Linked DNA regions of Homo sapiens. The protein of the gene in region 1 interacts with the protein of each later gene in a biochemical or structural test. Each region holds a gene or a part of one and is shown on either strand. Other genes may lie near its edges.

Region 1 (3,650 bases):
GCCTGGGCGAAAGTGCGAGACGCCGTCTCAAAAAAAAAAAAAAAAAAGATATTCAGTGAAAAGTCTCCTTTCCTTTTTGTTCTCCAGCCACTCTACTCTCTCAAAGACAGGCACTGTTAAGTGTCTTGTGTCTTTCCAGAGAGGCAGTTTTTTTTATTTGCTTGTTTGTTTAGTAGTCTTTCTACTAAAGGGATTTAAGATGTAACCTACAGCATATTGGTGAAAGAAAATACAACTGAAACTGAAATTGTATGACAATTGACAATAAACAAATTATAACTAATGTTGGAATGAAAATACCAGAATTTAGATTTACAATTAAGTGTTATCTTATTCAGAGATTCAGCGTAGTTATTTGAAGTTTTTCTTTTCTTTGAGACGAAGTCTCACTCTGTCGCCCAGGCTTGAGTGCAGTGGTGCCATCTTGGCTCACTGCAACTTCCACCTCCTGGGTTCAAGCGATTCTCCTGCCTCAGCCTCCCTAGTAGCTGGGACTACAGGTGCCCGCCACCATACCCAGCTAATTTTTGTATTTTTAGTAGAGACGGGGTTCTCCATGTTGGCCAGGCTGGTCTCAGACTCCTGACCTCAAGTGATCTGCTCTCCTTGGCCTCCCAAAGTGCTGGGATTATAGGCCTCAGCCACGGTGCCCAGCCTGAAGTTGTTCTTTCAATGAGTACCTTTTTAGGTGTGGCAGAAAACATTTTTTGGAACTTCTTTTAGAATCCACTTTGGAGCCTGTGATATTCTTCTTCTTTTTTATTTTGAGACAGAGTCTCATTCTGTTGTCCAAGTTGGAGTGCAGTGGCACCATCTCTGCTCACTATAACCTCCACCTCATGGGTTCAAGCGATTCTCCTGCCTTAGGCTCCCAAGTAGCTGGGATACAAGTGCGCAACACCATGCCCGGATGATTTTTGTATTTTTAATACAGACAGGGTTTCACCATGTTGGCCAGGCTGATCTCTAACTCCTGACCTCAGGTGATCCACTTGCCTTGGCCTCCCAAAGTGCTGAGATTACAGGGGTGAGCCACCGTCTCTGGCCATCCATCTTCATTTTTTTGAGAGCAGATTTGATTTTAGGGAATAACAGTTCATTTGAATCCAAATAATTTAGGGAATTTGGACTCAAGTCTGATAAGAAAGATAAGGCAATCAGGTTGGTGATACTACTGTTTTAGGTCAGATAGGAGTTATAACTATAAAGTAACAACACATAATTTTTTGTGTGACTTCTTGAACTGGACCTGAAGTCTACTTCCAAAAAAATCTCCGAATTTTATTTTATTTATTTATTTATTTTGTAGAGATAGGGTCTTACTGTGTTGCCCAGGTTGGTCTCAAACTCCTGGCCTCAAGCAGTTCCCCCACCTTGGCCTCCCGAAGTGCTGGGATTATAGGGATGAGCCACCACACCCAGCCCCTGAATTTTATTTTCAAGAATGAAAATAAATGAATAGAATATTTCAATGAATAAAATTCATTCATTGAAATATTTGTCAGTTTCCGAATTTTATTGCTCTAAAGTGTGGTATACTTTGTAACATTTACAAATTATTTTAAGCCTATATTATTTTAATTTATACTAAGTATAGTAAAAAAACAAGTAGAAGCCTGTGTGATAACCAACTATGAATCAAAATAGAGTTTTACAAATATGCCTTTCCGTTAAAGGGTAAAGGGAACTAGACTAGGTCTTGCAGTTTTAAGGAACTTTATGCATTGTCTGTGAGGGGAAATGAAGCAAAATTGTTTAAGAATACATTGTTGCAAAGCATTGATTTTGGGGTTTTGGGACAGAAGGGGAGAATCTTTGTGGTGAGTTTAAGGAAATACAAACAGGAACTTAAGTGCCTTTCCTCTGGGGTAGGGTTCTTCCAGGCCCTTGCTGTTGATTAGAGGAGGTGGGACACTGGTAACCATGAAATAGGAGGTGACAGTTGAGAATTACTCTTAGATCTTATTCAACTGTTTATTCAACAGTGTTTATTGAATACCTACCATGGGCCAGATAGCTAGGTTCTGGAAATAGAGTGCTAAACAAGACAGAAACAAGACAATCCATTCTCTCCTGGAACTTACAGCCTAGTGGGTTTAATAACTACATTTTGTGGATTGCTTGCTATGTTCTAGCATTGTGCTGTGCACTTTATCATCAGCATAAAAAGTATATAACAAAACCTTTGGTAAAAGGATAGCAAAACTTGCTAAGAAATCAAATACAACTTCCTAAGTGCTTTGTGGAACAAGATTATTCTAGTATAAAAGAAATAAGTGAAGCTAACTTTTTTTAACTATTAATGGCCATTCACCATTTTAAATCTATTTTTTTTTTTTTTTAGAATGAGCCAGGGCACAAAGAAATAAAAGTGCATGATTATTAAGTATACAAGGGTGACTTTCTTGACTCCTGACCAGTGAGAAGGGTGTGCCCTTTACTTTTCTAGTAGTGATAGTAGGTCCATGCTGAGCTTTCCATTCTTTTCTTTGTAACCAAAAGTAAGGTAGTTGCCTGTATGTTACCAGTGCCAGTCAATAAGAAGTCTTTAAACATAATTAACGGCAAGCATTTGTATTATTGATGTATAAAGATTGTTTTAAGAAAGAGTTCATTCGAAGCTGGCTATAAAGTCATTTTATTATCAAATCCCATTTTTCCACTTTTTTTTTTTTTTGAGACGGAGTCTTGCTGTGTTGCCCAGGCTGGGGCGCAGTGGTGCAATCTCGGCTCACGGCAGCCTCTGCCTCCCGAGTTCAAGCAATTCTCCTGCCTCAGCCTCCTGAATAGCTGAGATTACAAGTGCGTGCCACCATGCCTGGCTGATTTTTGTATTTTTAGTAGAGACGGGGTTTTACCATGTTGGTCAGGCCAGTCTCGAACTCCTGACCTTGTGATCTGCCCACCTTGGCCTCCCAAAGTGCTGGGATTACAGGAATGAGCCACCACACCCAGCCTCCACTGGTTCTTCTTTAAAATAAGCTTATCCTGGATCTCCAGGTTTTCAGTTCTGCCAGTTTGATTTCTTGATACTGAGGAGTACTCTGCTTTTGATTTCTTTCTAGCCCAGTCTCAGAGATGATGTGTTGACTTTGCCTTTCATGGGCAAGAGTGCAGATATTGCTGAGCCCCTGGGGCCTAGAATTCAAAGATGGAAGAATTCACTGGGGTAGATCACCCTCACTTTAGAATTAACTGACATTTTTAGGGATTTTTGCAGTTTATAAAGTGTTTTCATTCAAAGCATTATCAATCAGTTCTCACTAGCTCCATGGAGGCTCATATTTATTAACTCCATTTTATAGATGGGGAGCTGGACTCATTCATTAAAGGAATGGCATACTTGTCAATGCTACTTTTAGTAGTCTCCTTTCTGATAGATGTGGGCTGCTGAGGTTGCGCGGTGGCACCTTCTCTTATGCAGTTAACCTCCTCTTGTGAAAAAGGGGTTGCTGAGTCACTCGGAATAGAGCTTGAGTGTAGGAAAGCAGTTCCACCAGTGTCATTGCCCAGTTTATGTGAGGGGTAATGACTTAACCCATTTAACCCATTAGAGTCATGTCTCTTCCTCAGAACTGATAAATCAAAAATGCACTCATTGCCCAGATTAAAATTTTTTCTGAAGGAATTATTAGGCAGTGCAAATAGTT
Region 2 (3,650 bases), on another chromosome or scaffold:
CCTGTACAAAGGCTAGGAGTTTGCGGGCGGGACGGGGCTGAAGGAATGGGGACAGAGCGTGGGTGGTTAGAATTGAGACTAGAGAGGTAAGTAATGATTTGTAGACTATGTCAAGGATTTTGGAAACTGTCCGGAGAGCATTGGGGAGCCATAAAAAACTTTTGAAGTAGAGGAGTGCCATGACCATATTTGTTATTTTAAAAAGATGTCTTTGCTGTATATAGGGTTAAAAGGCAATGCCAGGAAGCCACATCAGAGGCTACTGTAGTGGTCCAAGCAATGGGTGCTGATAGCATAGACTAGAGAGGTGGCAGTAGAGATGGTGAGACCTGGGCAGGCTTGAGAGAGAGCAGATAGAATTGCTCAGACCTGGAAATTGATGTTGGGAGTGAGAGGGAAGGGAAGTAGCAAGGATAACACCCATGGGCTTCTGCACGAGCTGCTGGGTGCATGTTGGTGCCATGTACTAAGAGTACTTAAGGAGGAACAGGTTTGCAGGAAAGGATGGGCCATGTCAGATGTGTGGCGTTTGGAGTGGCGTCCAAATGGACATGGCACTAGGTCGTTTAAAAGATCTAGAGGTCGAAGGAGACTGTGGGCCGGAGGGAGCACTGGGGAAGGCGTCAGTGTGACGGGTCCTTGCCCCAGCCCATGGGAGTGTATAGAATGACAAGGGCAGAGTCAGGACAGCCCTGAGCACCAGCTGTGTCGCTTCAACTCCGTTCCTTTTTTAAAATGTTAATTCACTAGGAAGACCAATTTCTTTAAACACCTCTCTTGAGACATGAGAAAGAAGATAAAAGTAGAAGAGTTTTGCCACCTCTCTTTGGAACCAAGTGAGAAAGACAAGTGTTAATGATGAGCTGAAATAACTCCCCGTGTGAGTGATAACTAACGTCCTAAATCTTGGTCCCAGTGATTACGACTGAAGCATTCATATGATATGAGCTGGGTATACTCTAGGACACCGAGTTTTTTCATGAAGTTGAAACTCTTGCATGCTGTCAGGGAGTTTGCGACAGTCTAGGTACTTTAAACAAATGCGCTTACTAATTGTGTAATGATGTCACTGAGCTTGGCACCCCATGTAGGGATTCTGTCTTTCCTGTCCCCTATTCCCTGTCCCCCAACCCCTTGCTTCATTAAGACTTGCTGATTCAAACTCACTCTGGTTGAGGTTGAGTGTTTCTCTTTGTTCCAAAGGGTAGTGGCAGGCATATTTAAAGTAACAATTGTACAGAACACTCTTTAATGATGGCCTCTTATTTGAATCATCCCAGACAAAGAAATATTGCTAGATCCTGTAAATCTTCCAAGAAAAGATTTTGCGGATTTTAGACCCACATGTATGTTGTTTTGTTGTGAAGTATCTGGCTTCTCTCAATGTAGGAACTTTTTATTTTATTTTTTTTTGAGAGGAAGTCTGTTGCCCAGGCTGGATGGAGTGCAGTGGTGCTACCTCGGCTCACTGCAGCCTCTGCCTCCCGGGTTCAAGCAGTTCTCCTGCCTCAGCCTCCCAAGTAGCTGGGACTACAGGCATGCGCCACCACGCCTGGATAATTTTTGTATTTTTAGCAGATACGGGGTTTCACCATGTTGTCCAGGCTGGTCTCAAACTCCTGACCTCAAGTGATCCGCCCATCTTGGCCTCCCAAAGTGCTGGGATTACTGGCATGAGCCAGCATGGCTGGCCTCAATGTAGGAACTTTTGCAGTAGCTACGTAAAAAATAGATTCCGTATGGACCTTCCATCATATGCAGAGCCCTCTTGTCTTCCTTTGTAGATTATTCACTGACCAGCGCTGACCTGTCAGCCCTTCAAGGCTTCAACTCGCCAGGAATGCTGTCGCTGGGACAGGTGTCGGCCTGGCAGCAGCACCACCTAGGACAAGCAGCCCTCAGCTCTCTTGTGTGAGTAACTAGAAGTTTTCCCTGCATCTTTACTCCTGGCCTACACACTCTCTTTTCCTATCAGTGACAGCCTTTTGCTCTGTTGAGTTTCGTGTGAGGAATCCTGTAATGATTCCTTTTCAGGTAGATACAAGTGTCGGGAGAAAATATTTTCTTACATGGCTCTAGACAGTAGCTTGGATACTGACAAACTAGGCATTCCTTGAAGGGATTTGGGGAGCAAGGCTTCTCCCATAGGGACATCCTGAGGTAGAGAGACTCAACCAGGATCTGAAGGGGTCTGAAGGCACAGATACCACCCGCATGCACCATCCTTCTGCCCTCTGACCAGTGATGAAGCTGCCTACTGCACCCCTGCTCCCAAGCACCTGCCTCTGGCTGCACTGCTTGAAAGGCAGCCTGTAGGCATTCAGGCCTCCCTGCCACCCTTGCCATTGACTGCTTTGGTGAGTATCTGTAGACAAGAATAGGAAGACAAGCTGGAGCTTTTGCTTTCTCCCTGGGCCACAGGGAAGGAAAACTGGGGACAGGGTGTCTTATATATCAGTCAGGCTCCATAGGATTTGTGTGACTGATCCCAGCCCAATGCACACACCAAACCTCATTCACAAAGAGAATGTTCCGTATGGGCAGGGTGTAAGGATATAAGCAAAGAGGATTTACAGTGGCGCCCAGATGAGGCCAGACATCCCTGACAGCCGGGAGAAAGAACAGGGCTTTTGTGGAACCAGGATGACAGCAGACCCATGGAGCAGTTGGAGGAGAGTGTCCCAAGAGAGGGGACAACATAGCAGACCCAGCTGGCCTCCATGAAGACTGGCTGCCTTGCCTGTGCTCTGGGCAGTAGGAATACCCCAGGCCCCTAGCCTCTGCCCAGGAAGTCCCCAGAGAGCCTGAGCTCAGCAGTCCCTTTCCCTCATCCATTCTGAAGTAACTGCACAGTGAGGATTGTTGTCAGTGGTCTTCTTAGGAATTATGTCATGGAAAAAGCAGCAGAGTATCTCAGGGAAATTTGCCTACACAGGATTTGGCCCTCAGGCCTGTCCTGAGCATCCTAAATGAATGCACTAAAAATAGTCCTGGAAAAGCAAGTGGAAAGGGCTCAGAGCCCAGGCCCGGGGAACAGCCTGTTTGCGTCCTCCTCTACTGCTCTCAGCCAGCCCCTCATTTCCTCATCTGGAAAATGGGGATGGTGCGACTTGCACCTTAGAGGTGTTGCGAGGATGAGCGATGTTGTGCCCTGTCACAGGGCCAGAGCAGATGGGGAGCAGATGCTGAGGAAGAAGAGGCGGTGAGCAGATGAGGCTGCTGTTCCTCTGTCTTTCTGGTCCCTGCACAGCATTAAGACACTGACATTGTTTTGTATACTTTAGCTGCAAAAGTACCAACGTTGTGGGTAACAGAACCAAGTAACGTAAGGGCTCAACGGTACTGTTTTCTTTCCTCCTAGGAAGATGGGATTTCCTTTTGTGCCAAGCACTGAAGGAAACGACCCAAACCAGTCTTGGGGAACTCTGATAAGATTTCAGACTCTGGGCCCTTTTCCATCAGGCAGTGTCTCTACTGTATCATCCCAGTTTTGCAGAGGTACTTGCAAGCCATCTGACCTCTCTCTTTTTTTTCCTTCAGTGCTGGAGGGCAGTTATCTCAGGGTTCCAATTTATCCATTAATACCAACCAAAACATCAGCATCAAGTCCGAACCGATTTCACCTCCTCGGGATCGTATGACCCCATCGG

What was found. Proteins that work in one complex are often made in the same cells at the same time.
Region 2: of the proteins of MAPK14 (region 1) and MEF2A, one has a biochemical effect on the other in vitro, tested with the Homo sapiens proteins (2 studies listed by BioGRID).

What each region holds. Positions count from the first base shown.
Region 1 is NC_000006.12:36,030,658-36,034,307, forward strand, and holds part of MAPK14 (mitogen-activated protein kinase 14), read left to right. Parts: intron 1-3,650. UniProt on the Homo sapiens protein: Serine/threonine kinase which acts as an essential component of the MAP kinase signal transduction pathway.
Region 2 is NC_000015.10:99,708,850-99,712,499, forward strand, and holds part of MEF2A (myocyte-specific enhancer factor 2A), read left to right. Parts: intron 1-1,784; coding exon 1,785-1,911; intron 1,912-3,540; coding exon 3,541-3,650. UniProt on the Homo sapiens protein: Transcriptional activator which binds specifically to the MEF2 element, 5'-YTA[AT](4)TAR-3', found in numerous muscle-specific genes. Also involved in the activation of numerous growth factor- and stress-induced genes.